2 linked regions of the Homo sapiens genome follow. The protein of the gene in region 1 binds, or shares a complex with, the protein of each later gene. Each region holds a gene or a part of one and is shown on either strand. Other genes may lie near its edges.

Region 1 (15,856 bases):
TCCATCTCCACAGGGTTGAGTTAAATTTTCACACATATGAACAGATGGAATTATTCATACTTGAGCAGTTTTCAAAATTATGCTTTCATGCATTTGAACACTGTCATTTCTTGATTTATTCTCTAGTAATATTAATACATCTAAAATTCTTAGGACAATGCAGGGCTGAGATTAGGCTAAGGCAAGTGACACACTTGCCTTGGAGGTAAAATTTAAGAGGGTGCCAAAAAACTCAGTAATCAAAGTAACATTTTAAGGCAATATGTTAAAAATATCAACTCAAAATCAAAGCAGCAAACTACAGCTCACAGGTTGACTATCTCTGTAAATAAAGCTTTATTAGAACCAGTGAGACAGCCAGAGGGGAGGGGGTTCCCAGAAAAACTCCAACTGGCCTGTGCACTGGGGTGGAGCTGCGGAAGTTTGTGCCACTTGCAGCAGGGAAGAGCCTGGCCCCTCCTCTTCCTGTGTGGAACCTGGGATTTGGGCGCGGTCCGGAAGTGCTCTAGATGAACTCTGGCCTCGCTGAGAGTCCCTGTTTCCCCTCTTTTTTCCTTTTCACCCAATAAAGCCCTGCTTTACTTACCCTTCAAACCATCTGTGAGCCTGAATTTTCATGGCTGTGGGATGGACAAGGACCCCATCTTTAGCTGAACTTTAGGAAAATTCCTGCAACACCAGGTCCAGGTGGGCCAAGTGTAGCATAGTCATGAAAGTGTTAATTGAATCTTGTCTTTAAAGTACTGATATTTTGTTCATTAAGAATTTTTTGCATTATGTGATTTTAAAAAATAATTTTAAAATAACTTTAATTTTTAAACTGAATTCTTAAATATTTTTTTAAAAACTTTTTTTTCAAGACAATTATTACAATTTGATATGGAGCAAAAGTGCTTCATGTATTTTTTCCCAATCTGTCACAGAGAATGTTAAAAAGACATACTCAAGAATCACAATTTTAAGAAATTAATAATTTTTACTGCCTCATCAAGGATATTATTGGGTGAAATATACATTTTGTTTTACTGTGAGTAGACAATGGCCAAAAGTTTCATCTGCTGTTATTTTTTAACCATCAATGCAAATGTCAATGCAGTGAAAAGGCAAATAACATCTTAGAATTAGAATGAAAATGATTTTAACCCCAAAGACGCCTTGAAAGGGTCTCAGGAGACAGCAAGGTCTATGGGCCAGACTGTGAATTGCTGCCTTAAAGGGTAAAGCTTTCACAATATATCAAAAGCATTGTCAGTCACAAGATAAGATCCTCAGTCAGATGGGGGCAACATAATTATGACTAATCTCAAAATTAGTTTTGGAAAAATCAGTGAAGAGTTGAGCAAATTGACTGTCATATAAATAGTTTTGAGCAATCAGGAAATCTTTGAGGCTAAAGATAAAATGTGAAAGAATCTGAATGGCATGAATATAATCCATGACCTGAAGGCACGGCCATTTTAGGGCAGCAAAGTGGAGAAAGAGCACCCCACCCATCACTTACCTTCCATTCCTTGCCCCCACTGCCTCCTGGGTAATGAGGGAGCAGAGGATACTAGAGCAGCAGCAGCAGCAGCAGCAGGAAGAGTGAGGCAAACGGAAGGAGAGCACAGGGCATCCGAAGGCTGCTCCAAGACCTTGGGGCCGGTCAGCCTGGTGCGGAAGCTCTCCTGCCATTTCCTAGCACACAATCTTGGTTGAATTCCCAAAGCCCACTTCTGGCTGAGTCTCCTCCACCATGTGTAATATGGATTAATATTAATACCTTCCTCATACAATTGTTGTAAGGAGTACATGATATGAAGTAGCTAAGGCACTGAGCACAGAAACTGAGACAATAAGTATGCAGTAAATGTATCATATTAAGCAGAAGGAACATTATTTCTGTGCTCATTCACTGCCCAGTGTTCCGTAACTTTTCCCTACATGCATCAACACTTAGCCCAGAGCCTTCTCAGTGTTAGGTGTTCAGTAAGGGAAGCCTGTCTGGACCTGTCACTTCTTCCACGCTGCACTGAGAGTCATGACTCAATGACAATTCATGCAGAAATCTGATGTTTAGGCTGGGCATAGTGGCTCACGCCTGTAATCCCAGCACTTTGGGAGGCTAAGGCAGGTGGATCACCTGAGGTCAAGGAGTTCGAAACCAGCCTGGCCAACATGGCAAAATCCTGTCTCTACTAAAAATACAAAAATTAGCCAGGCATGGTGATGGGTGCTTGTAATCCCAGCTACTCAGGAGGCTGAGACCTGAGAATTGCTTGAACCTCAGGGGCAGAGGTTGCAGTGAGCTGAGATTGCACCACTGCACTCCAGCCTGGGCAACAGAGCAAGACTCCATCTCAAACAAAAAAAAAAGGAAATCTGATGTTCAAATATGAAAAAATAGACATAAATGTGCAAATTATTATGTAAAAATATAAATGTTTGTTACAGAATTGTTTTATATTTTCTTAAAATCATTTTAGTATTGAAAACACACTGAAAAACAAAGGAATCAGCCTTAAAAAGTGACACTAGCAAAACATTTAACACACCAACAGAAAAATATATCAACCCTGCTTTTTGCTAGTAGGTCTCTGTGGTAGACAGAATGCCTCCCATTCTACCCCAAGATGTCCACATCTTGATTTCCAGAACCTGTGAATATGTTACTTTATATGGCAAAAGAACTTTACTGATGTGATTATGTTAAGGACCTTGAGATGGGGACATTATCCCGGTGAGCCCAGTGTAACCACAGAGGTCCTTAATGCCTGGTGAGCCCAACATAACCACAGAGGTCCTTAATGGAAGACAAAGGCAGATGTCAGGGAAAGATGTGACTTCAGAAGAAAGGCACAAAGAGATGCCACATTCCTGGCTTTGGAGATAGAGGAAGGGGCCATATGCCAAGGAATGTTGACAGCCTCTGAAAGCTGGGAAGGGCCAGGAAACAGACTCTCCCCTAGAGCTTCCAGAAAGGAACACAGCCCTGCCAACACCTTGATTTTGACCCGGTGACACCCATGATGGACTTCTGAAATACAGAATCATAAGATGATAAACTTATGTTGTTCAAGCCACTACACTTGTGGTGACTTGTTACAGCAGCAAATAGAAAACTAATACAGTCCCAAAGCTTATCCAATCACCTGTGGCATACTTCAGTGCACAATAAAGAAGTAGCCAGGTCACCAGGATGGGGACTAACAAGTCCTACAGCTTTACTAAGCTCCCCAGTGCAGCTTCTGGCCATTGAAATGCCACAAAATAAGAGATTTCTCATGAACAACCATCCCTACCCATGAGGATTTGGATTCAAGAGTTCTGAAGTGTGAGAATATCCATGTTTAACAAATCCTATTGGTGACTTGGTTAGACATGGTCAGTGGTCCACACTTTAACACACATTCATTTCTGTTTTTATTTTTTGGAGACAGAGTCTAGCTCTGTCACCCAGCCTGGAGTGCAGTGGCGCGACCTCAGCTTACTGCAACCTCCGCTCCCAGGTTCAGCAATTCACATGCCTCAGCCTCCTGAGTGGCTGGGATTACAGAAGTGCACGACCACGCCCAGCTAATTTTTGTATTTTTGGCAGAGACGGGGTTTCTCCGTGTTAGCCAGGTGGGTCTCAAACTCCTGACCTCAAGTGAGCCACCCTTCTCGGCCTCTCAAAGTGATGAAATTATAGGCATGAGCCACCGCACCCAGCAGAAACATTCATTTCTGTATGTAAGGTGCTTACAGTTTAGGGGCTGAGTAAATATAATTCCAATCCCTAATAGAAAAATATATATGCATTATTTTAAAGACAAGTCAACAGCCAGGGACAAGAGTAAAGGACTAGAAATGTCCTAGAACACATACATTCTTTTGTATGCTTATGTCAACAAAAACAAGTTACAGAATTAAACCAGATGAGAACTCCGTCTGCTCTCCCCTATGCGACCAGTGCTTCAGGGTTAGGGGGCAGATGAAATGGAATCCTGGCAGCCCTATAGACCTCTCACTGAAAAGCATCCCTGCTGACCACAAACCCAAGCCGGGCCCTTCCTACCTCCTCACCTGTCTCAGCTGTTTCCTGATGAGGTGGAGATGTGCTGGCCCAGGGTGTGTCATCTTCAAACTGAACCCAGTTGCTGATGGCCGAGGCCAGGTCAGGTGGGGGCTGCTCAGGGCTCCCAGGTGGGGAAGCTGCTTCAGAGATGAGGCCCATCTTTTCAGAGGAGTCATCCTGCTCCGAGTGGGAATGGTCTTGAGAGCCTCCATCCACCACATGGTTCTCCCCGGAGGAGCTCTCGGACTGGTCTGGGGAAGATGACAGTCCTGGGAGGTGCTCTTCCGTGCCCCCTGAAACAGATACCAGACGCCACCATCATGTGAGGAAGGCCGCTCTTCAGAGCCATCTCATGGAGGCAAAAACTAAGGATGACCATGGGGTGCCCGCATGACTCGCCACTGCAGTGAGTGGGGAGAAGAAAGAGCCACACCCATCTGACTGCATGTTAAATGACTGTTTCCCTAATCATGTGTAAATGCTGTAAGCTCAGCATGTCTCCAGTCAGTATCCTGGCAGGCAGAGACTAGGAGCCTTCTTCACTATTCTTATGCCAGCATCTACTCCAGTGCTTGGGGGTCACAAAGGAAAGTGCTTACAGAGGTCAAGTAGGAAATATACCTGAGTCAAGTGAGACAAGTGAAAGGCAAAAGGGACTGGTGGGGACTGTGGCTGAACAAGAGCACTTCTGTCTGAAGACATTCAAATTCAAATTTCAAATTCTTTGCAGTCTAAGCTATACACAGCCACAGGACACCAGGTGCAAACCCATGTGCACTAATGACCAGCTGAATGTAACCTAGAGGTTATTTCTGCAGCACTGTATCACTTGATTGGCCCCAGAAAATTAAACAGCCTTCAAAAATTTTTTTTTTGGAAATTAAAAAACCTGGCCGGGCGCAGTGGCTCATGCCTATAATCCCAACACTTTGGGAGGCCGAGGTGAGTGGATCACCTGAGGTCAGCGGTTCGAGACCAGCCTGACCAACATGGCAAAACCCCATCTCTACTAAAAATACAAAATTAGCCGGGCATGGTGGCACATGCCTGTAATCCCAGCTACTTGGGAAGCTGAGGCAGGAGAATCGCTTGAATCCAGGAGGCGGAGGTTGCAGTGAGCTGAGACTGCACCACTGCACTCCAGCCTGGGCAACAAGAGCGAAACTCCGTCTCAAAACAACAACAACAACAAAAAAACTATATCCTGATTATGGTGGTAGATACACAAATGTATACATGTGCTGAAATTCATCAGCTGTACAACAAAAGAAGTCAATTTTTCTGTATAAAGGTTTTTAATCAAATAATTAATATAAAATCTTTTCTCCCATCACTAGCCAACCGGTCCATCTGCAAGTATTCAAAGCCTCTACAGCACGTCAAACAGAAATAAAATGTGAGCTACATATGTAATTTTAAATTTTCTAGTAGCCACATGAAAAAAATTAAACACAACAGGAGAAAGTATTTTAATAATACACATTTCAACCCAATGCTGAAAATTTATAATTTCAACATGTAAGAAATATAAAATTATTAGCTATTTAATTTTTTTAAACTAGGTCTTTGAAATTTAGCATAGGTATCTGATGCTTACAGCACATCCCAATTCAGACTTGTCACATTTCAGGGGCTCAGTAACCACATGGCCACCATATTGGAGAGCATACCTGTCGACTCACACTTTCTAGGTGTTATAAATGACGGTGGGATGACTTCAGTTGGCACTGGTAGCTGTAGTAGAACAGAACCAACTCACATGTCTCTGCAAATATCTCCTGGATCCTACCTTGACCTTCATCCCTGAGCACAAGTTCTCCAAAGTCAATATAGTCATCCTCCTTATGATCAAGGATGACCGTACTGAGCTCTTTCCACGTGCCAGGCACTGCTCTAAGCACTTTTATGTATGAATTCACTTAAGCCTCACAGCAACCTGTGAGATAGGTACTGATTATCCCTACTGTACAGATAATGAAGCTATGCATGGAGAGGTTAAATAAATAATCTACCCAAAAGCATATCACTCATCCCTGGTGCAACAGGGATTTGAACCCAAGCACTCTGGCTCCAGAGCCTGTCACTTTTAACAACTACTTTTAATAACTACATTTTAAAAAGGCTGAGAGTAAAGTATTTGGTAAATATTAAGTTTTTGTTTCTTGGGAGAAAAGAGCCACTACCTTTGGTGTTTCCAAGCCTCTTTTTAGGGCCCTAAGGTTCCCAAGATGCTTTTTCAGTGTGTAAATTCTTCCACTTAGGATTCTAAGATCTCAAGAAAGAAAGTGAGAAACTGACCCTTTTTTCTATATTAAGATCCCACCCAAAGAATAATCAAGTAGAAGCCATAACAAATAGACATGGTTCTTTGACAATCTCTTCACTTTAGGAAACGAAGGCACTCCTTACCCTGCGAGTGGGCAGGAAAGGGTGGCTCTTCATTGAAGGAGACCCATTCTGACTGGTGGGTGGCAATCACATGGTCCAAAGTCGTCATGCTAAAAAGGCACTGGTCATCTTCACACTGCTGACCTCAGGTGAACCCCAGAATACTGTCTGGGGTGGGCTGGAGTAGGGGTATGGTAGTACGGTAGACTTGGGTCCAGGGTCTGTTCTAGGTGTCTTGCCAAGGGCAGTACTCAGAATGTAGACAGATCAGCCTCTCTTGCCGTTGGTTAATCTGCCAGGCAGAAATCTGTTTAACAAACAAACAAACAAAAAATTAAAAAGGATAACCATCACATTACACTGAATCCACATAGGTCTAGGGCTTTTAGCGCTGCCCACAAGAAGGCTTGGGGTGGTTTCCAACTTGCCTTACTTCACTCTGTTCCTGTCATGCCCTCACCTTTTATACTGAAATGTCTGTCTTTAGCATCAAGGTTTCTAGATAAGCCTTCATATCACACTTGCAAATAATTACACAAATTTCAGCAATTAGATTCTCTAATTTCCCTAATTATTGTATTTTAGAAATATTGTCATCTATAATACTATCATTGCTAAACAAATATTAAAACTTTTCAAAATGCTTTCACTTTCTCTTACTAGCTGGCAAAATAAAAGCATGTTCTTTTCTATTAAATTAGTCCAGTTTCTTGCCTTAGGCAGGTAACTCTTTATAAACCTGATTTAAATCTCTGGCAGAAACCCAACAATCTCCAGATGGTATCTCCAAGCATGGTTTATCAATCAAGAAAAATAGAAATGAAGTGATCTTGTTCATTTGGAGTAAGAGGATAGGGAACATCTGTGGTAGTGAAAAATGTGAGTTAGAGTAACATTTTCAATCTAGGCCTATTTAAATTAGTTACAATGGTCTAGCCTTTGCTCACACTGCAATTATGTTCTAGGAATACAGAAAGATTCTTAATTGACATAATTTTGTTCATGGTATTAATATCTTTTTACAACCTGAACCTAGCTCTTGATCTAATAATGATTTATAATGAATTAATAAAATCTGAATTTATCTAAAATTAATGTGCTTCCATAGAAGAGCTACTATATACCTTGAACAATATCAGTTCTTATTAACTAAATATACACAATATTCAGATAGTTTCTAGAACAACTTAACTCACAGTCTTCCAATTGCTGCACAATGAAAAGTTTAGGAAATTTTACTACAGGTTATCATCTGCAGTAAATAATCTCTAGGTGGGAAAATCGGTAAAAACATGAACAGCTTTTGCTTTTTTGGTGTTTAAAACAGTTTTGGCATATGATGCTTCCTAAAAACAACTAATGTTTATATAGAATTTATAATTTTCAGAAACACATTTTCATACCATACTTCACTTGATTCAGTAGCCATTTTGATGAGTAGGACTCATAGTACTCTAATTCTTCTATGGATAAAGAAATTTGGGCTGAGAAAAATTAAGTGACTTACCTAATACTTTTAGTGCTTCCAGGCCCTTTTGGTAAAATGCTTCCTCCAGGCTAAGTGGAAGAGTTTACAAATCTCAGCACAGTGGCTGACTTTTCTTCATAATAAGATCTCACCCAAAGAATAATCAAGTAAAAGCCATAACAAGCAGGTGTGTTTGAAGCACCACACTAAGTGATAGATCCAACCCTTGAGCCCAGGTCTTCTGCAGCCAAAACACTCTAACCCTGGTGTCACAGCCGCAAAGAAGTACAACAGAATACAGTACATATAGACTATCACCCAACTTAAGTACTTTACAAATATCAATTACAATGGAACTGTAATGAAATGTCCGGGAAACTCCCCATGTGAAAGTTTGCCAGCACACCCCAAGCTGTATAAAGGATGGGAAGCCCAGAAGCCTCTTCTCCAAGTCCCTCTCCTAGGATCCTTGCCAACCACAAGGCCAGACATAGGCAAACAGCCTGGAGAGAGCAGGTCTCCCAAACCAGATCTTACCAGAGAGCAGTGCAGGGTCCACAAGCACAAAGAGCTGATTCCCACTGGCTTCTGCCTTTGACGACTTTCTCAAGCCCTGTCAAATGTGTGTCACTCAATGTGGTAATGGCTGCGGGCCAAGATAAGGCAGTAAAATTGAAGAGTCAGATTCCTCCTCTTTCAACGACAGCAGCATGTAAACCAGCCCCACAGCACCCGTCAAAAAAAAAAAAAAAAAAACCCACAATACAAGTCCCTATGCTGACACATGCAGTGTCATCACTCAATGGGGAAAACATCCTGCCAATCCTGCAATGATGAACCCAGCAAAAGTCATGGATAAGTGGGGTAGGGAAGAGAACAGGGGACGAAGGTGAAGGTAAGAGGAAAATATTTAAAAATTTTAAACTGAAAGGTTTTAAAGATCAACAACTTCAGGTGTTATGAGAAAACTGAGGCCCAAGGAAATCAGGCACACGAATAGAGATTGTGATCACAGGCCCAGGAGTTAGGTTGTTCGGATTTGAGTCCTATACAGTCTTGGAGTCCTATACAGTCGTGGACTCATAACTCAACCTCTTTAAGCTTCAGTTCAACCTTGTACAGAAAGAATAATAAAACTCACTCCATAATTCCGAGGATTAAACAAGATAATGTACGCCAAGTACTAAGGACTGGATGTAATAAACCCTCTGTAACGATGACAATGAAAACAGCAGGTGACCTTACAGAGGGCTTACTGTGCCCCAGGCTCCATTCCAAACCAATGTTAGCCATCGCCAGCACTGCTGCTATTGTTAAATGACTCGCCCAACGTTGCGTAACTTGTTCGTAGAAGTCTTGGGACTGGAATGCAGATTTCATGAAACCACTGCATTTCTGTCATTTGCAGAATCTGGTTTCAGTCATTGTTCAAAATGCTAAGTAGAGTCATGTGCTCAGCTACAGTGCCCAGAAGGCAGATTCTAAATCCTCTTCATTATAGATATAGGTGCATTCTGGCCAAAGTACCAAGACCATTCCTCAGAACGTATGAACGAAAAAAGAGCCCCAAAACTTTATCTATCCTTCCTTCACTTGTCCCAGACCAGACATGGGCTGGTGACAGACAATGAGTGGTCCCAATGAAGACTGGTGGAACAAATTGATCACATGGAACCCCCCATCATATTCCATACCATAAATCCATAAAATGGATTTTAGGTATTTGCCATGGAAGAGCCACACCAATAAGCCATAAGAAATCAGACCTTGAAAAGTGCTGTGCTAAGCAGCTGGAAACCCACAGAAGAACCCAATAATTGTGAGGTTAAGTTCATACTGGAATTAGTTGCTTGGTAAAAACCTCACCCCATTTTTAGAATGTGAATCATAAAATGAGGTTTAGAATCACCACAAATGAGTGGTGACTCAGTATCAGCAGGAGGATTGACCAACAGATGCTAAAAGTTTCATTGAAGTCTTGGAGTTGCCATTTCAGAGAGCTACTTCTTTCTCAGCATTATACAAAAATTTGTAGAAGGGAGAATGCAATTGTCTGATAAGATGGGGGTCATAGAAGTAGTTTTGTCTTATGACAGTCCTCTAATTGCCACAGTTTAGCCGTAGGGAGATCTCTGAGAGTTGGAACCATATGGGACTGGGTGGGTTTCTGAGATGTGAAGGATGTCCTTGATTCTGGACCAACAGAGGGACAAGTGAGGGAAGCCTCTGGACAGGGGATCACCGCAAGTGACAGTAAAAATCAGAAGCAGACCTTAACAAGGTGTGTTTCTGTCTGAACAAGCCTCTGTCTGATGAGAGCAGAGGTATCTACTGGGGGAATATGGAGTGAAGGGATTGATTGACCATAAAAGCTAAGGAGAGTTCAAGGGGAAATGAGAAGCTGTGGGAGGTTTAAAAGCAGAGAGTGACTCAAGAAGTGTGCTTAAGGGAGATAAGCCTTCCTCAGACAGTGCTGGACAGAAGCGTGGTGATGGAATTTTTCAGCCATCAGTACCTCCGGTGTGTCTCACAAAGTTGGGGGGCACAGTCATCAGGAACATGTACTGTTTCTGCCCATTCTAGGGCCTGAGGGTCAAGGGAGAACAAAACAGCATCTCTGCCCTCAAGCAGCTGTCAACTGCAGGGAGATACCACAGCAACCTAAAACAATAACCTCTGCTCTCTAACCTATTCTGGTGGTTAGTCACCAAAAGTAGGACAGCAGCAAGTAAGAGTGTTAAGAGACTTCTGAGAGCTTGAGCTATAGGTGGTCTTGAACTGTACCCTAAGCCGGAAAGGAGGGGTCTGAGCAAAAGAGCTGAGGGGCACAGGCACTCAGGAAGGGGGAGCAGGAATGGTATGTCTAGCCCACAGTGAGTTACACTCTGTTCATCTGAAGAGGGTGTCAAGCATCCTGGAAAAGGAGCTCTAAGTTTCAGAACGAGTTTGAGCTCTGGAGCTTACCCTCTCCAATCCCACTGCCAATGCCTTGGCTCAGCCCCTCATGATCTCTCACGCAGACAGTTGCAAGTCTCCTACCTGTCTCCCTGCCTTCAGTATCACCTGCTCAAACCTACTATCCAGCCTATTATGGTAGAGTTATCTTCCTAAAACCTGAAAATGGCTATGCTACAGCTCTGCTTACAGCTCCTCAAAGTCTCCTCACAGGATAAAATGAGGTATGAGAAATGAACAAAGGATTCCTGAGAGCAGGGGTTGCATGCTATACCCTCAGCATTGAGCATAGTGCCTGGCACAGGTTAGCAGCTCAATAAAAATTGTCGTATAAATGCAGGCACTTTGTGAATCTGGCCCTGATCCACCTCTCTAATCCCATGTGTCATTCTCTCCCCTTGTGAATCCTATATTCCTGATGAACTGAGTTATTTGAAAGACTGTGTTTTTTAATATACTTTGTCCTATTCGATCACTTGTTCATATATTAATACATTATTAAATACTATATTTGGGATACATTTTCCCTACATTTTTATTTCATGAGCTCCTGCTCACCTTCAAGTCTTAGCTCAATCATTATCTCAGGCTTGGCTCAACAAGCATTTATGCCAAGTGGCAATCACTGAATGCAAAGATAAAGAACACAAATTATTTTGCCATAAAACCTTTATAATATGCATGCTCATTGTCTTTTGCCTACTCAACACCCAAAACTCCTTTCTTTTTCGAGAAAAAAAATATTATCTTTACATCCCTCCTGGCAATTAATCCAGGCTTTGTCAACGGCTGCTAGAATATTGAGGGAATGCTAAAAGGTACAAGGGCCTTGAATACATGCAAGAGTGGCATGCGAACAATGGAAACTTGACCCAAGCCCAGAAGCAGGCACAACTCAATTCCGTGGCAATGGTGACAAGTGCAGCATCCTAACCAGACCCATGGTGTGACTCTGTCTCTGTTTACTGCCGGCTAGGTCCTATGGCTCCTACCTATTTTCCAAGCCACGTTTGAGAGTCATCTGGCAATCCAATGAGCTCTTTCATACCCTTGAATAGACTTCTTTCCTGCTTGTATTAGCCAAAATTAATTTCTGTTGCTTGCAACCAAAAACTCTGATCTATGGTGGTACTCCTCAACTTCCAATAAGTAAAGTACCACACTTCCCACTTGCCCTTTATCCCCCATATCTTCTGAATGCTGATACTATCTTAACTTACACTCATTTACCAAATTATAATGAAATTATTTGCTAATGTCGCTATATGAGGAAAGGGACTTGATCTTTTGCTTATTGATGTCTTTAACTCTTAGAATAGGGTATGGCTTTTAGTAAATGCTTGTTGGGTAACCAGCTGAATGAATGAATTTGCCTTAACATACAGTAGGTAGCCTCTTCAGCTCTTTTGAGACGTTAATAAATGTTTTAGGAAGGTTAATTTAAACACTATGTGTAAAACAGCTTCGGAGAAAATCTAGATATAGGGAAATATGTTCATTCCCCTTTCTCTTTGATCTAAAATTATATCATCCAATTCCAATACAGCAGACACTAGACATAGGGACTACTGATATGTGGTTAATCTGAATGAGTTGTTCCTTAAGTGTAAAATATACACCAGACTTTAAAGAGTATAAAAAGGTGTAAAATATCTAATAATTTTATACTGCTTTCATGTTAAAATGGTATCCTGGATGTATTAGCTTAAGTAAAACATACTGTTAAAATTAATTTCACCAGTTCCTTTCAACTTTTTTAAATGAAACTACTAAAATATTTAAAATCATATATAAGTAGCCCACACTATATTTCTTCCTTTTTTAACTGAGACAGGATCTCACTCTTGCTCATGCTGGAGTACAGGGCACTATCACAGCTCACTACAGCCTTGACCTCTGCAGGCCCATGTGATCCTCCCACCTCAGCCTCCTGAGTAGCTGGGTCTATAAGTGCACACCATCACACCCACCTAATTTTAAAAAATGTTTCCGTAGAGACAGGGTCTCACTCTGTTGCCCAGGCTGGTCTCAAACTCCTGGGCTCAAGCAATCCTCCCACCTCAGTCTCCCAAAGTGCTGGGATTACAGGCACAAGTTACTGCACCTGGCCTCATGGTATATTCCTATTGGACAGCAATGCTCTAAAGCAGTCCATTTTTTATTTCATCCTTGATTTTGAAGGCTACTTTTCACAAGACAGAGAATTTTTCCTTCAGTATTTTGCCTTTTGGTCTGAATGTTTCTAATGAGCAGTTGATTATATGTAATTACTCATGCTTATATAATGTGTCTTCTTTCCTCTAATGGCTTTCAATATTTTCTCTTTATCTTTCATTTTCAGCAACTGACTATAGTGCATTTGGATGTAGTTTTCTTAGAACTCATTTTACTCGAAGTTAGTGGAGTTTCTTGAATCTGTATGTCCATTTTTTCATTAAATTTGGAAAAACTAAGTCAGTATTTCTTCAAATGTGTTTTTCTGCCCCTTTTCCATCTCTTCTGCTAATCTGTCCTTGCGTTCACTGACTCTTTCTCTTCTCATCTCCATTCTCCCATAAGCTTATCCCATGAATTTTGTATCTTATTCAGCTTTTCCATTTTATAATGTTATTTTACAGTTTCTATTTCTTTGCTGTGATGCCTTATATATTCACTCATTGTGACAATATTTTCCTTTAGTTCTTTGAACATATTTATAACGGCTGCTTTAAAGACTTTGCCTGCTAAATCCAACCTCTAGACCATTTGGGATTAGTTACTATTGTTTTTTTTTTTTTTTTGCTTGACTATGGTTTTTATTTTCCTAAGGTTTTTACTTTCCTAAGGTTTTTTTTTTTTTTTTGCATACCTAATAATTGTTGGTGATACACTGAAGACCTTCTGGATTTGACTTTCCTCTGCAGAGTGCTGATGTTTGTTCCAGCAGGCAGTCTGACCAAGTGCTGCTCGCCTAGAGCTTGTATAAAGCTTGGTCTTTTACTTCATTGGATTAATTTGTTTCCCATGGCCCTCTAATTGCCATAGGACTCAATTTCTAAACTCTGTCTCCCCTGTAGATCTTGACAGGGTATGATGGTTAATATTGAGCGTCAACTTGATTGGACTGAAGGATGCAAAGTATTGTTCCCAGGTATGTCTTTAAGGGTGTTGCCAAAGGAGATTAACATTTGAGTCAGTGGACTGGGAGAGGCAGACTCACTCTCAATCTGGGTGGGTACCATCTAATCAGTAGCTAGTGTGGCTAGAATAAAGCAGGCAGAAGAAAGTGGAATGACCAGACTTGCTGAGTCTTCTGGCCTTCATCTTTCTCCCATGCTGGATGCTTCCTGCCCTCAAACATCAGACTCCAATTTCTTCAGCTTTTGGACTCTTGGACTTACACCAGTGATTTGCCAGGGGCTCCTGGGCCTTTGACCACAGACTGAAGGCCACACTGTCGGCTTCCCTACTTTTGAGGTTTTGGGGCTCGGATTGGATTCCTTGCTCCTCAGCTTGAAGACAGCCTACTGTGGGACTTCACCTTGTGATCAATACTCCTTAATAAACTACCCTTCATATATACATCTATCCTATTAATTCTGTCCCTTTAGAGAACCCTAACACACAGGGCTTGGTTCTAGGCTTTGCTAGGGTAGCTTAAAGTAAATCTTACTCTAGAGCATGGGCTGGCAAACTACAGCCACAGCCTAAGTCTGACCCTCTGCCTTTTTTGGTAAATAAAGTTGTATTATTAGTATATTTACCAGCCACACTCATTAGTTTACATATTGTCTATGGCTGCTTTTGGTCTACAATAGCAGAGTTGAGTAGCTGTGACAGATACTGTATGGCTCACAGGGACTGAAATAATTACTGCTCAATAATAATAACTACTGGCCCTTTACAGAAAAAAATTTACAGACCCTCCTTGAGAACATGATCCTTACCCCTAAGACACAGGCTTTCCATACTTGGTTGGATGCTTGAGATGTTAATAAGACGTTAACGAGCTCTTTCCACTGTGGCTGGGCTGGACCACCAATGTCCCCCACTATTGCCTGATGTCCAGTATCTTTGTCCCATTCTCAATCCTCCAGCAGCCACTCTATTAAGCTCTGCATGGTTTCAGTGTGCACCTGTGCACTCTAAACTGGCCAACGGTTCTCTGGGTACACCCAGACATACTTCTGCTCCTCTCTCCCCATCCCCATGCTCTCTGCTCCCCAACTCTCTGCTCTCTGGTGCCCTGTCCTGCAGATTCCAGCTGCTTCAATTGCCCCAAACTCTGATCTCTGTTTTCTTAGCTCAGTATGACTGCTGTGCTTGGCTTAGACTCCAGCTGACCACACTGCAGTCACGAAACTCTTCCCTGGAAAAGAGCCAAGGCGAGTGTCAGGCTCACCTCAGGATAGAAAATCTTGTGCTGCCTGTTGACCGAAGCCTGAAAACAGTTGCCTCATAGATGTTGCTGTTTTGTGGTTGTTCGCTGCAGAAGAAGGGCTAGTTACCAAGTATAACCAGAACTGGAAGTCCTCCCCTGGAACATTACTTTCTGACTTGTGTTCACTTTTAAAAAGAGACTAGTTCAGACATCTAAATACAGGTCATTTCACAGTAATGTACTGAAAATTAATTGGAAATTTTACAGAAATTTTATAAATTATATGAGAATAAAAGGAAGGTTTCACTCAGCCATATAGATTAATTCCATTGCTCCAGAGCTGGGAAAATGATTTATTTTGTTAGGTTAGCTATGCTATATAATACAAAAACATTACTTGTGCCTGGTTAGTGATCCAAAAGAGGTTGTTAAATCTTTGGCCATCTTCCCTGTCTACCTCTTTTTCATAGGTATTAAGCTAGGTAGCGTCTATGAAAATCGCCACATCCACTTTTTGGGTTTGAGACTATTGGCAACCACTGTCCAGTCATCTGTTTGGAGTTTATGCAGAAACATCTTCAACTAGATCCTGGTGTCCATTCCAAACCCACAAGTAAGGCCTCAGTTTTCTCTTGAATAAGGACAAGCA
Region 2 (15,330 bases), on another chromosome or scaffold:
TCCCACTTACCGATGTAATACTGCTATTGTTGGCTGCACTGAAAGGGTCAGTGCTTGAAGTGGCAAAAGGATCAGTAGATTGCCTGAAGAAACAGTCTGATGCAAATGGATCTGAACCTTTGAAAGGATCACCACCAAATGGATCTAAAAAAATAAGGCACGAATATAAGAGACAAAAAAAAATTATTGCACTAAATTTCCCATCACTTGAAGGTATGATCAGTGCCTTAATTAAAAGACAGTCTGGGGCCAGGTGCAGTGGCTCACGTCTGCATTCCCACCACTTTGGGAGGCTGAGACAGGCAGATCACTTGAGGTCAGGAGTTCAAGACCAGCCTGCCCAACATGTCAAAACCTCCTCTCTACTAAAAAACACAAAAATTAGCCAGGCATGGTGGTGCGCACCTATAGTCCCAGCTACTCGGGAGGCTGAGGTGGGAGACTCACTTGAACCTGTGAGGCAGAGGCTGCAGTGAGCAAAGATCTGCCACTGCACTCCAGCCTGGGTGACAGTGAGACCCTGTCTCAAAAACAAACAAACAAAAAGACAGTTTGGGCCAGGTGCAGTGGCTCACACCTGTAATTCCAGCACTTTGGGAGGTTGAGGTAGACGGATGACTTGAGCTCAGGAGTTTAAGACCGGCCTGGCTAACACAGTGAAACCCTGTCTCTACTAAAAATACAAAAATTAGCCAGGCGTGGTGGTGCGCGCCCGTAATCCTGGCTATTCGGGAGGCTGAGGCATGAGAATAATAGCTTGAGCATGGGAGGCGGAGGTTGCAGTGAGTCAAGACCGCACTACTTGTACTCTAGCCTGGGCAACAGAGCAAGACTGTCTCAAAAAAAAAATCCAAAAAGACAGTTTGAAATACTGTAGAATCTAAGCTGAGTACTTTTTATTTCACAGACTCCTTTGCAATTTTGATAAAAGATACAGAACCTTCCACCTAATAAACTTATTTTTAAAATTAACATATAATTTCAAGGGATCCAATTTTAAGTCCCCTTATTCTACGCTACCGTAACTAAAGAAAACACAATAAAAACTTCTAAATGTATTTTTCTCTCTGAGCTCAAAGCTAACAGCCAATAGTTTAGAACAGGTTTGGGATGCAAAACTAAATGGTAAACAAGATTTGCATTATTCTAATGAAAATTCCCAGAAAAAGAATATCTCAAAAAGCCTGATGTTTTAGTAATTCTTCAAGATTCTCTGCCTCTAATCACACGTGTGGGCTATAATCTTAGGAAAACAAAATTACATTCTAAACCCTGAAGCAGTATAGATCATTATGCTCACCAAACCTTTAGTTAGTAAGGAGGAATCAGAATAAATATTTAAAGCACCAAAGTCTAAACACTAATGTCATTTTTAAAAAAGTAAAGCTATCGGGCACAGTCGCTCACACCTGTCTGTAATCGCAGCACTTTGGGAGGCTGAGGCAGGAGGACTGCTTGAGCCCAGGAGTTCGAGACCAACCTCGGCAACACAGTGAGACCCTGTCTCTACAAAAAATAAAAAAAAATCAGTCAAGTATGCTGGCATGAGCCTGTAGACCTAGGTACTCAGGAGGCTGAGGCAGGAGGATTGCTTGAGCCCAGGAAGTCAAGGCTGCAGTGAGCCATGATCACACCACTGCATTCCAGCCTGGGTGACAGAATAAGACCCTGTCTCAAAAACAAAAAACACCAAAAAAAAAAAAAAAAAAAAAAAGAAGAAGTAAAAGTAAAGCAACAATTCATTAAGCAAAATCAAAAGAATTTACTACTCTCTTTCTGAAAATGCCAGGCACATAGAGCATCTTACTGGGGCTTCAGTTTCAGACCTAAATAACATAAGCTTATTATTAAGCAGAAATGAATGAAAGCTAAGATGAAACTCAATAAGATACTGACCGATTTTTCCAAAAGGATCATCCTTGAAAGGATCACCTGTGATAAAATAAACACAAAGAAATCCAAATAACAATATTTACTGTGGTGACACCACTACTTAAAGAGTAACTTTCAAACAAAAGCAAAGCAAAGTTTATTTCAATAACTTCACTTCACAGTAGATAAAATAAGGAATGTCATTGACCTTATGAAATATACAGCCAACTATACTTACCTTGATCACAAGTTGAGGTTACGGATGGAGGGGAAGACATTACAGCAAAAATTTTACTAACAAAATCTCTACTCTCCACAAGAGTACTGGGAGGGTATTATCATCACCAGTTCAGAAATAAAGGTACTGAGCTTTACTGAAGCAAAAAAAAAAAAATTCTTACAGGATTGAAGAGTCCAGAAATAAATCCTTACCTTTATGGTCATTTGATTTTTGACAAGCGTATCAAGAACACAAAATGGAGAAAGGACAGTCTTTTCAACAAATGGTGTTAGGACAACTGGATATCCACTTGCAAAAGAATGAAGCTCGACCTCTATCTCACATCATATACAAAAATAAACTCAAAATGGATCAAAGATCTAACTGTAACAGCAAAACTATAAAACTCTTAGACAAAGACAGCATTAAATCTTTGCGACTTAGGTAATAGTTTCTTAGATGACACCAAAAGCACAAGTGACAGAAGAAAAAATAGATAACTGGACTTCACCAAAATTGAATAAACACTTTTCCAAAGAAGATACACAAATGGCTAATAAGCATCTAGAAAGATGTTCAACATTAGTCAGTAGGAAAATACAAAGCAGGCCAGGCGCAGTGGCTCACACCTGTAATCCCAGCACTTTAGAAGGCCGAGGCAGGCGGATCACCTTACATCAGGAGTTCAAGACCAGCCTGGTCAAAATGGTGAAACCCAGTCTCTACTAAAAATACAAAAATTAGGCCAGACGCGGTGGCTCACGCCTGTAATCCCAGCACTTTGGGAGGCCAACGTGGGCGGATCACGAGGTCAAGAGATGGAGACCATCCTGGCCAACATGGTGAAACCCCGCCTCTACTAAAAACACAAAAGTTAGCTGGGTGTGGTGGCAGGCACCTGCAATCCCAACTACTCAGGAGGCTGAGGCAGGAGATTAGCTTGAATCCGGGAGGCAGAAGTTGCAGTGAGCCGAGATTGTGCCACTGCACTCCAGCCTGGCGACAGAGCGAGACTCCATTTCTAAATAAATTAATTACATAAATAAATAAATACACACATACATACATACATACATACATAAAATTAGCTGGGTGTGGTGGTGGGCGCCTGTAGTCTCAGCTACTCAAGAGGCTGAGACAGGAGAATCGCTTGAACCCAGGAGGCGGAGGTTGCAGTGAGCCGAGATCGTGCCACTGCACTCCAGCCTGGGCGACAGACTGAGTTGGTAGGCTATTGAAACTGAAGCCTTGAATCCTTAGTTTATATATTAAAAAGTCTTTTTTTTGGGTAAATCTATAATATAAAAAAAAGAGTACTTACTGCCAACAAAAGGATCAGACTGGAAAAAATCCAAGTTTGTATCTGCAACTGGACCTGTCAGCGAACTTGAGTCTACATTAAATGGATCTTCCTAAAAATAATTTTAAATTAAAATTATTTTTTAGAAACCAAAGTTTTAAAAGGTAACATTTTAAAATAAAATAACACACATTCAGGTCATACACATGCTTTGAAAAATCAACTGATGGGCCAGGCACGGTGGCTCACACCTGTAATCCCAGCACTTTGGGAGGCTGACGTGGGCAGATCACAAGGTCAAGAGATAGAGACCATCCTGGCCAAAATGGTGAAACCCCGTCTCTACCAAAAACACAAAAATTAGCTGGGCATGTGCAGCTACTCAGGAGGCTGAGGCAGGAGAATTGCTTGAACCTGGGAGGTGGAGGTTGCAGTGAGCCAAGATCACACTACTGCACTCAAGGCTGGGTGACAGAGTGAGACTTGGTCTTGAAAACAAAAGGAAAATCAACTGATGGTAATGTAACAAATATCTCTCTAGTCATAAAGCACCTTTAACACATTTTTCTCTTTCCTTCACCTTAACATATTTTTCTCTTTCCTTCACCTAAAATAGTGTATAATTCATCTGAGGAAAACAGTGATAAGGACATTTTTTTAAAATATCATTTAATTTTTAGAGATTAGGTCCCTCTATGTTGCCTAGTGCCTCCAACTCAGGCTCAAGCAATCCACCTACTTCACCTCCTGAGTAGCTGGGACTACAGGCACTTGCCACCACATCCAGCTATTAAGAACATTTATTTATTTTATATGTATAAATTCAAGGGGCACAAGTGGAATTTTGTTACATGGCTATATTGCCTAAAGGTGAAGTCGGGGCTTTTGATGTATCTATCATCTGAATAATGTATATTGTACCCATTAAGTAATGTCTGATAATTCACCTCCTCCTGTCCTTCCACCCTTACAAGTCCCCAATGTAAATATAAAATCATTTTTTACCTCTTTTGAATGTCTATTATTGTCGAGTTCAGAACAAACTTTTTCAGTAACAGCTGTAGTCACCTCATTTTCATCAGTCACACCAGAAGGCAGTAGTTCAGGACTACTTCTTGCCTACAAAATATTAATGCAAGTAGATTAACAATATACTTTTTGACATGGCAGAGAAAACTGACTAAAGATAACCAAAAACTATTTAAAAATAAAAAAAGACAAGCAGAATGTATTCATCAAATAACTTCTCCTTCTATAATCTTTTTTAGGGAAATGGTGTCATCAAGCATCAAAGTCACTCATGTCAGAAACCTTCAGGTCATCTTTAATCCTCAGAATATGACTCCAAGTCTTGCTCAGTCTACCTCTTACCTCTTTTTCAAATCCTTGCCTTCTTCTCCATCCTCACTGTCACTATCAATCACTTATAGTACTATCATCTTTGGTTCCAATTACTATAGCAGTCTTCCTTCCAACTGCTTTCCTGCCTCCAATACATGTATTTCCAATCTCTTCTCCTTATTGTAGCCAAACTAATAGCTCTAAAATGTGGATGTGATCGTGACCCTTCTGGTTAAAAGTCCTTCAATGGCTTCCCATTGTCTTCTTCATTTAGACGAGTGGGTGAAAGACTTAAGAAGTAGTAGGGGCAGGCCGGATGCAGTGGCTCACACCTGTAATCCCAGCACTTTGGGAGGCCGAGGCAGGCAGATCACAAGGTCAGGAGATCGAGACCTTCCTGGCTAACACGGTGAAACCCCGTCTCTACTAAAAATGCAAAAAATTAGCCAGGTGTGGTGGCACACGCCTGTAGTCCCAGCTACTCGGGAGGCTGAGGCAGGAGAATAGCTTAAACCCGGGAGGCTGAGGCAGGAGAATAGCTTGAACCCAGGAGGCAGAGGTTGCAGTGAGCTGAGATTGCGCCACTGCACTCCAGCCTGGGCAACAGAGCGAGACTCCGTCTCAAAAAAAAAAAAAAAAGTAGCAGGGCAATAGCTACTTTATACCACCCTTATCTATTTGCAGGATAACCTAGTAATCTGCCTTTTGCGCTTGAAAGAATATTTTATAATGCATACATGACTGCACTGTGTAAATAAAATCGAGTCTGTTAACTTTTCACTTTTAATACCTCTCAAACTTCTATTCTTCTCATTATCCCTTCTACGGGTACAGTCTCACTCTCTAATCCGTTTTCCACATTTCTAAAAGTTAATCACGTCACTTCTTGCTTAAAATTCTTCAATGGCTGTTCATTGCAGTAGGATAAATCCCCCAATGCTTTAAGATGAATCTAAATTTCTCATCTTCTGGCACTTTCTGACCTAAAATTGGTCATTTTTATCCAGGTGCACATGACAATCACCCATAGAGTGTGTTTTTAAAATATACATATCTGGCTCTATCCCAGAAACTAGTTCAGCAAGTTTGGGGAAAGGGATACACATTTATACTTTGACAATCACCAGAGGTAATGCAGATGCCTACTAGAAGCGCCTCATCTCTTACCAATACCCTCTCCACCATCACAAGATATCCTTCAGAACTTCTCAAGATTCTGTGCTGCATGTATTCTTCCACCTTGTACCTATACTAATACTGTTTTCTCTGGCAGGAATGTATCCTCCTCTTCTTTGCTTAACCACTTCTCACTTGTCTAAACTCGCAAAGCTTTCCCCAACAAAATCTTTATGAACCCCCTCCAAACTGTCCTAACTGAAAATTCTGCGCTTCCTTTAGCACAGCCCTTTAACACAGTGTTACACTACTACACTGTAGGCTGCTTGAAGGAAAGACTGAGGTCTCTTGTCTCTGTAGCTCTTATATTATGTAATACAGCACTCTTGCACATAGTTGGTACTCGTCAAATAATTGGTAAATGAATGTCCTTAACACTACGTAATAAAAATAATTTTAGCTTTTGGTGAGGGTACTTAAAAAAAAAGTTTTACTCTATAGAACCACCATTTTAAAAACAGGCTCTACAAAAAATAAATTAGCTGGCTGGGCGTGGTGGCTCACGCCTGTAATCCCTGCACTTTGGGAGGCCGAGGCAGATGGGTCACTTGAGGTCAGGAGTTCGAAACCAGCCTGGCCAACATGATGAAACCCCATCTCTACTAAAAATACAAAAAATTAGCTGAGTGTGGTGGCACGTGACTGTAATCCCAGCTACTCAGGAGGCTGAGGCAGGAGAATTGCTTGAACCCAGGAGACGGAGGTTGCAGTAAGCCAAGATCGCACCACTGCACTCCAGCCTGGGCAACAAGAGCAAAACTCCATCTCCAAAAAAAAAAAAATTAGCTAAAGTTATCTTTTTATACTAGTTAAAACGTACAATTGTTTGGATTAGGACTCTCTGCTTCTAAAAAGGAAATCTCAATTGTCCTCAGATGAGGCAAGGCCATGTATTTATATTAGATATAATGTCAGTGAAACTTGGATCTGCACAAGGAGGTTGATTATGAAGGTTATGAAAGTATTAGACTCACTGGAGATTCCTGGTGTATGGGCTCAGACTCTAGGTTGCTCTGGCCTTCAACATGTTCATTAAGGTTGGCTGTTTCACTGCTGCTGGTGCTGAGGCTGCAATAATCTGTAGCTCCGTTTACAAGAATGCTGTGTGGGCTACTGCACCAATTTAACTGACTATTATGATTTTCCAAATCTTTCATTTCCATCAGTTTCATTTGCATCTGCCAACACAAAGAAGAAATATAGAACAGAATTTATTACTAGAAAGACATGTAACATAAAAACGCCCTCCTCCACTTCCTGACGGGCTAGGTGTGGTAGCTCATGCCTATAATCTCAACACTTTGGGAAACTGAGGCAGGAGGACTGCTTCAGCCCAGGAGTTCAAGACCAGCCTGAGCAACACGGTGAAACCTCATTTCTACAAGAAATATAAAAATTAGCTGGGCATGATGGAGTGCACCTGTAGTCCCAGCTACTCAGAAGGCTGAGATGGGAGGATCACTTGAGCCCAGAGGTCAAGGCTGCAGTGAGCCATGATCACACCACTGCACTCGAGTGACAGAATGAGACCCTGTCTCAAAAAAATAAATAAAATAAAAATGGCTATACCTGTAGACTTGGTCTAGGATACATTTGCTTCCTTTAAGAAGAATCCTCTGGGAATGCTACGTGACTTAGAGAAAAGATTCAGTAATTTCTGACAATAAGTATTTCTCTCTTGAAATTTTAGTATACATGGATTTTTTTTTTAAAGAGATTCAAAAAAAGAAAATACTTTAAAGAATACCCATTCATCTGGTAGCATTCTCACTACAACAACTCTTTCAGGTTACCTGTTTATTGAGTACCTACACTGGGACAAGAACTGTGCTAAATGATACGGATTTTTAAAAATGTGTAAGTTCCCAGACCAAAACCATGACTCTGCTAGGGGAGACAGACATATAAGCAAATATGCAGGGAAAAATCTTATTATTGCTGTAACATAAATACAAAGTCCAACAAAAGCAGGATGCAGAAAATACCATAAAGAAATAAGAATTTAAGGTATATCTTGCATGACGAATGAGTAGGTAGGTACTCAGCTGCCAGATAACAGGGGGTAAGGAAGCGCAAAAGTGAAGGACTTCATTATATGTAATAACTGAGCACACTGGACTGGGTTTTAGAAGAACTGGATTTTAGATGTAGCTCTTTTCAAGGATATGTAACCTTGAGAAAGTTACTTGAACTTCCTTGGCTTTAGTTTGTTCAAATTCATAATGAAAGAAATCAACTCCATGATCTCTGTGTTTCTATCCTTTTTTTTTTAGTTTTTATTTTTTGAGACAGATTCTCACTCTGTTGCCCAGGGTGGAGTGCAGTGGTGTGATCTGAGCTCACTGCAACCTCTGCCTCCCAGGCTCAAGTGATTCTCGTGCCTCAGCCTCCCAAGTAGCTGGAATTACAGGCAGGTACCACCATGCCCAGTTAATTTTTGTACCTTTTAGTAGAAACAGAGTTTGGCCATGTTGGCAGGGCTGGTCTCGAACTCCCGGCCTCAAGTGATCCATTGCCTCAGCCTCCCAAAGTGCTGGGATTACAGGCATGGGCCACCACCATGCCGAGCCCTAACTATCTTATCATTCATTAAAACATTAGTCTTCATGTAGGGAAACCTGGAAATAAAGCAAAGGATCTATACATAAGACCAACTATAACACTGCAAATTTATCTACAGAAGGAACAATTTCCTTAAGAAAAAAGTTTCCAAATTAGCAAATGTGAATTCAAAATTAGAATCACAAAACAGAAGAAACTAGGTTATTGTTTATAAAACAGGCAACACTTATGGAGCATTTATGTACCAAGCACCATGCTAAAATGTCTTACAGGTTTTGCCTCATTAATCCTCACAGTGGCCCTAAGGGGTAGGGTATTTATTAATCCTCCAATTTTGAAGATGAAGAATCTGATACTAAGGTGATTTAGCTAGTAAGTGGCACACCAGTACTTAAACCTAGACCATCTAGCCACAAAGCCCACACTCTTAATCACTACTCCAATGATAATCATCAGATAGATATACAAGATGTATGATAGTTTCAATATATAACAGGTGACAAAAAAACCTATTGTATAAAATGACTGAAAAATGAACAGTAAACTAGGCAAGAGGTTGAAGGAGCAGAAGTTGGAAAGTATAACTGACTAAAGGACACAGAGGATCCATTTGAATATATTTCTTGCTTTACAAAGACTTACTGAACTAATTTCCTGTTGTGAATCTTGTAGGTGCTGCTGAAGAGGTTCCAACTGAGCCTTCCCTGACTCTACACTCTCCTCCAATTCTGCTGTTTCTTGCTGTAGACGGCTCAGCTCTTCTCTAGCTTTTGCCAATTCTTCTTCGTAAGTGGAGATCTGCGATTCCTGACTAGTTAATTCAGCTTTCAGAGAAGAGATCTATAATGTGAAAGTGAATGAGAAGAAATGGGGATTAAAAGAAGAGATGTCATTAAAATGTTCCAAAATGCAATACATTTATTTGTTTAGTTTACTATTTTGGTGTTTTTTTTGACAGCAATAGCAAATAATTTATTTAATTTAATTTTTGAGAGAGAGAGTCTTGCTATGTTGCCCAGGCTGGATTCAAACTCCTGGGCTCAAGTGATCCTCCTGAGTAGCTGGGACTATAGGAACATGCCCAGCCATACCTAGCCCTATTATGGAGTTTTTGATGTTGTTGTTGTTGTTGATGTTTTATTTTTTTGAGACAGTCTCACTCTGTCACCCAGGCTGGAGTGCAATGGCACGATCACAGCTCACTTCAGACTTCAGGCTCAACTTTCCCAGGCTCAGGTGATCCTCTCACCTCAGCCTCTCGAGTAGGTGGGATTACAGATGTGGGCCACCACGCCTGGCTTTCAATTTTTTTTTTTTTTTTTTTTGAGACAGAGTCTCGCTCTGTTGCCCAGGCTGGAGTGCAGTGGCGTGATCTCAGCTCACTGCAAGCTCCGCCTCCTGGGTTCACACCATTCTCCTGGCTCAGCCTGCCGAGTAGCTGGGACTACAGGCACCCGCCACCGCCCTGGCTAATTTTTTGTATTTTTAGTAGAGACGGGGTTTCACCGTGGTCTCGATCTCCTGACTTCGTGATCCGCCTGCCTCGGCCTCCCAAAGTGCTGGGATTAAAGGCGTGAGCCACTGCACCCAACCAGCTTTCATATTTTTTGTAGAGATGGGATTTCTCCATGTTTCCCAGGCTGGTCTCCAACTCCTGGGCTCCAGCAATTCCCCCCGCCTCAGACTCCCAAAGTGTTGGGATTACAGGTGTGAGCCACTGTGCCCAGCCAATTATGATGTTTTTTGATGTATGGTTTTCGTAAAGAAGGGTAACTGGGGGAGGGACAGAGGAGAGTTGAAGGTATAGGCACCATATTTCCAACAAAAATTTGGAAAAACAGTTCATTAACTGCCCTTCTATTTCCTCTAAAGAAGGCCTGTAATTTCTGGATGAACCTTGCTCCATCGCCCCCATGAACCCAAATGCTGACTGGATTGCCAACCACCACCATCAATAACAAAAAGTAGAGAATGTTTTCATCTTAAGCCAGGAAAAGCAACTAATGTATAGGTGCAGGCAGCAGGAAACAGCCAGACATTACCAGTTGGGCCTCCTCAGCACATTTCTTTCTGACTTCCTTGAGTTGCTCCTCCAGCTGGGCTTTCTGCTCATCCAGTTCATCAAGGAGTTCCTGTACCTGCTGTTTCTGGGCCTGTAGTTTTTGCAGATTAGTATTCTCCCTTTGAACTTCATCTTGAAGATCCTAAAATCCAAGAAAATTAATATATTTATTTTCTTTGCGGGCAGGGGAGGGTTAAGTTAGTAATTTTAAATCTACCTTAAGAAAGAATAAAGTCTTACTGAGTATACTGTGTTGATGAGACTAGGGTACTTAACAGCTTTAAATACAATCTTTACTTGAAGACATCTTTCCTAGAATCCATATTTAGATATTCAATTTGCTAACTCAAATCTGTCCTTGGACATGTGATGGGCTTTGCTAACATGTTGAAAATAGAACTCCTGGAATTTCCCCACAAATCTGTTTTAAGCTCAATCTTTCCCCTCTCAGATTCTCTGGTCAAAAAAAAACCCCACATGGAGAAACCCTGTCTCTAACAAAAATGCAAAAAAAAAAAAAAAAATTTAGCTGGGCGTGGTGGCGCATGCCTGTAATCCCAGCTACTCGGGAGGCTAAAGCAGGAGAATTGCTTGAACCCAGGAGGTGGAGGTTGCAGCGAGCCGAGATCATGCATTGCACTCCAGCCTGGGCAACAAGAGTGAAACTCCATCTCAAAAAAAAAAAAATTAGCTGGACGTGGTAGTACGTGCCTGTGGTCCCAGTTACTTGGGAGGCTGAGATGGGAGGATCTCTTGAGCCCAGGAGGTCAAGGCTGCAGTGAGCTGTGATCATGCCACAGCATGCCCAGACTGGGCAACAGAGTGAGACACTGTCTCCAAAAAAAAAAAAAAGAAAAATTAATTCCAGGTAAATAATGGACCTGAATGTAAAAGTCTAACTTTAAAATGTGTAGAAGAAATGCAGATCTCAGTGTAGGAAAAGATTTCTTAAAACAAAAAAAGAACCATTTTGAAAATGTTATTTATTCATCCATGTACATACCAGACCTCATGCTTAATAACAAGAACTACAGAAATTTTTAAAAAGCCAGGCGCAGTGGCTCAGGGATTAATAACTCCGAAGTATCTGTCAGCAGGAGGTAGGCAAAGATTTCAAAGCGGGTGAGGTAAAACTGAACACAAATTTCTAAAAATAATATCTATTCAAAGGTCCCAACAGTCATTCACCAGAATAAGAATCTAAGAACAGAAGAGAAACTTACAGGTAAAAGGTCTCTGAATTACTGCATAGGTTACACAAGATAGCACCATTATGATAATAGCCAACACTTTAAATGCTACTTAAAATGTGCTAGGTTGTGCTCTAGGCTCTTTAAATATACTAACTTATTTATAGTCTATATGACAGATCTACGAGTTAGGTACTGATATCATTTCATATTTTACAGATGAGAAAACTGAAGTACTGATGTGTAGGTAATGTGTCCAAAGTTAAAAATAGTAAGCTATGGATTCAAAGTGGGTTCTGACTCCACAGCCTGAGCTCTTAACCACCATGTGACATACCATCTGCAGACTAAATGTCTCACATGTGTCACTATTTTTCAAATATATGCAGATGTTTCTGTGATTAAATAGAACACTGAACAATGCTTTCAATAATTGCTTTTTATCTTATATTTTCTTAACCAACTGGTTAGTCTAAAAATATCATGTTGCTTTCTTTAAAAAATTCCTTTAAAGCCCAGGCAGAGCAGGCAGACAAAAAGGGAAACTCAAAGGCAGTAGCCTTTGAATTCCTCAATGATACTTGAGGAATTCGGACAATGTTTGATGAGTATCATCAACTCTGCAAAGAAAGGCAAAAAGTGACCCTTGTGCCATGAATTGCTAACTCTTGCACAAAGGACTGATAAATGGAACTGTACAGAGAATTTAAGATACAGGGACACTTGATTTCTGGAAGAAAAACAATTTCTGTATTTTAATTCAGTCCTTATTTTAAGAGACTTGAAATTATAATATTGAAGGAGAAGAAATTTTAAATGAGGAAATAAGTACATTTTAAATCTTAGTTAAATATGCTTATGCCCCTTCTAAATTGAATTTTTCTTTATTGTATTATATAGAGTTTTGCTTTGCCTAGGTTTCTTAAGAATCAGATGTTCTCTCATTAACCCGTCAGGAAACAACAGAAGCTGGAGAGGATGTGGAGAAACAGGAACGCTTTTACACTGTTAGTGGGAGTGTAAATTAGTTCAACCATTGTGGAAGACAGTCTGGCGATTCCTCAAGGATCTAGAACCAGAAATACCATTTGACCCAGCAATCCCATTACTGGGTATATACCCAAAGGATTATAAATCATTCCACTATAAAGACACATGCACACGTATGTTTATTGCAGCACTATTCACAATAGCAAAGACTTGGAACCAATGCAAATGCCCACCAACGATAGACTAGATAAAGAAAATGTGGCACATACATCCCATGGAATACTATGCAGCCATAAAAAAGAATGAGCTCATGTCCTTTGCAGGGACATGGATGAAGCTGGAAACCATCATTCTCAGCAAACTACCACAGGAACAGAAAACCAAACACCACATGTTCTCACTCATAAGTGGGAGCTGAACAATGAGAACGCATGGACACAAGGGAGGGGAACATCACACACCGGGGCCTGTCGGGAGGTGGGGGACAAGGGGAGGCAGAGCATTAGGACAAATACCTAATACATGCAGAGCTTAAAACCTAGATGATGGGTTGATGGGTGCAGCCAACCACCATGGCACATGTATACCTATGTAACAAACCTGTACGTTCCACACATGTATCCCAGAACTTAAAGTATAATAATAATAAAAAAGAATTAGATGTTCTCTTTCTGATTCCTTTGACAAAAATGTTTATCAATTATTTACTATAATTTATTTTAAAAATTCCTTTAAAAATGCCAACACAATAGATGATCATGAAAGACTTTCCAGTGCTAACATTCCGTGAGTTTGTGTGATCACAGTTTCAAACTGGTGAACTCCTTTAGTACTTTATCATTAATTTACCAGCATGCCTAATTTTTTTCATGTCTAAATTTTTAACCTTGCCTACACTGTTAACTAATCCATACCATATAGAGATACGACTTTAGATATGCACATGGCATTGGCTCTGAATAAACCCATGCCAAAAGAGAAAAATGACTTCAATTTCTGTATCACCCAGTCTAGTAACTTCAGATTCATCTTTGATTTTCTCCATTCATACATGTCCTATAGATTCTACCTTAAAATCTCTCTTTAAGCTGTTTACCAAATTATTTTAGCTTTCATCGTTCCTTCCTTGACATACAACTGGGTTTTCTCCCTTTGTTTCTTCCTATTCCAAATGTCCAACTTGCTTAAAAAATAACTCACTGCAAAGGATATTTCTCTAGTCACTGTTATTTTTAAAATATGTGTTGTTCCCTCTTATCTAGAGGATTAAGTAAAACTTGCTGCAAGACACATTAAAACCTTCAGTTCTGGGTTCTACCTTCTTTTCCTCTCATATTCACCTGTGTCCCAGCCTCAGAAGACCCTATTCCTTCTCCAATAGACAACATATTTCAATGACCCTATGCCTTTCCACAAGCCATAACCTCTGTCTTCAATGTCCTTCCACACCATATGTACCTGGAAACCCACTATTGATTCTTCAGAATCCAGCCAAATTTAATCTCGTCTGACTCATCTTGGGCTTCCTTCACCTATGCTCAAACTCTACTGTTTGTTCCTAACCTCTACTGTCATACTTAATACACTGTAATCATAGCTAACCTCTAAATTACAAACTTCTAAAGGACAGTGTCCATGCTTCATCTTTCTTTGATTATCCAAAATCTTGTACAATGCCTAGCACATTCCAGGGGCTTAATTAAGCAATTACTGTAACTATCATAGGATTTTAGTATGTGGGAAAAACTAATGGGAAACACGCATGAGACTGACAGAAAGAAAAGACTTACATTCTTTTTACATAATGTGAAACACTTCACTATGTATTTAAACTATAGCTATTTATTAATACCCCAAACTGACCTATGACAAATGCTTTTTAAACTTTTTAAAATAATACCTACATTTCTAAACTGATTCAGTATTTTTATAATCTATAGACCAAGGCTGATCTGACATTTAAAACTTTCATTATTTGGAAATAATCATTACTGCTTTAACATGTCACTGTGGCATATACCTTTATTTTTTTAAGACAGGATCTTACTCTGTCACCCAGGCTAGAATGCAGTGGTATAATCACGGCTCACTGTAGCTTCAACCTCCTGGGCTCAAGTAATCTTCCCACCTCAGCCTCCCAAGTAGCTGAGGCTACAGGCATGTGCCACCACGCCTGGCTAATTTTTAAATTTTTTTGTAGAGATGGGGTTTTACCATGTTGCCCAGGGTGGTCTCAAACTCCTAGGCTCAAATGATCTGCCCGCCTCGGCCTCCCAAAATGCTGGGATTACAAACATGAGCCACAGTGCTTGGTCTAGTTCAGCTATAAAATATTTTAAAAGAATGTTACCTGCAGATCTAAAGTAATTTTGTTAGTTTGAAAATACAATCTATTGAGCCGGCAAAGTGGCTCATGCCTGTAATCCCAGCACTTTGGGAGGCTGAGACGGGTGGATGACCTGAGGTCAGGAGTTCGAGACCAGCCTGGCCAACATAGTAAAACCCCATCTCTATTAAAAATACAAAAAATCAGCTGGGCGTGGTAGTGGCCGCCTGTAATTCCCGCTACTAGGGAGACTGAGGCAGGAGGATCACTTGAACCCAGGAGGCAGAAGTT

The links.
Region 2: the proteins of STON2 (region 1) and EPS15 are in contact, whole or in part, in an NMR structure (PDB 2JXC), measured with the Homo sapiens proteins. Residues at the interface, in NP_001353779.1 of Homo sapiens: Trp309, Arg310, Ala311, Thr312, Asn313, Pro314, Phe315, Glu318, Gln321, Asp322, Gln324, Pro325, Ser326, Ile328, Asn329, Pro330, Phe331, Phe334, Phe335, Glu337, Gln338, Glu339, Arg340; in NP_001972.1 of Homo sapiens: Leu139, Gly148, Lys152, Pro153, Val154, Leu155, Leu156, Asn157, Ser158, Lys159, Val162, Asp163, Leu165, Gly166, Arg167, Trp169, Glu170, His176, Gly178, Met189, Val192, Tyr193, Leu196, Glu197, Lys198.

What each region holds. Positions count from the first base shown.
Region 1 is NC_000014.9:81,391,850-81,407,705, forward strand, and holds the start of STON2 (stonin-2), read right to left. Parts: upstream 8,476-15,856; 5' UTR 8,430-8,475; exon of another isoform or gene 7,932-8,429; intron 6,732-7,931; 5' UTR 6,534-6,731; coding exon 6,446-6,533; intron 4,330-6,445; coding exon 4,045-4,329; intron 1-4,044. UniProt on the Homo sapiens protein: Adapter protein involved in endocytic machinery. Involved in the synaptic vesicle recycling. May facilitate clathrin-coated vesicle uncoating.
Region 2 is NC_000001.11:51,399,022-51,414,351, forward strand, and holds part of EPS15 (epidermal growth factor receptor substrate 15), read right to left. Parts: intron 10,676-15,330; coding exon 10,514-10,675; intron 9,312-10,513; coding exon 9,114-9,311; intron 7,088-9,113; coding exon 6,884-7,087; intron 4,512-6,883; coding exon 4,398-4,511; intron 3,505-4,397; coding exon 3,414-3,504; intron 1,933-3,413; coding exon 1,897-1,932; intron 145-1,896; coding exon 11-144; intron 1-10. UniProt on the Homo sapiens protein: Involved in cell growth regulation. May be involved in the regulation of mitogenic signals and control of cell proliferation. Involved in the internalization of ligand-inducible receptors of the receptor tyrosine kinase (RTK) type, in particular EGFR.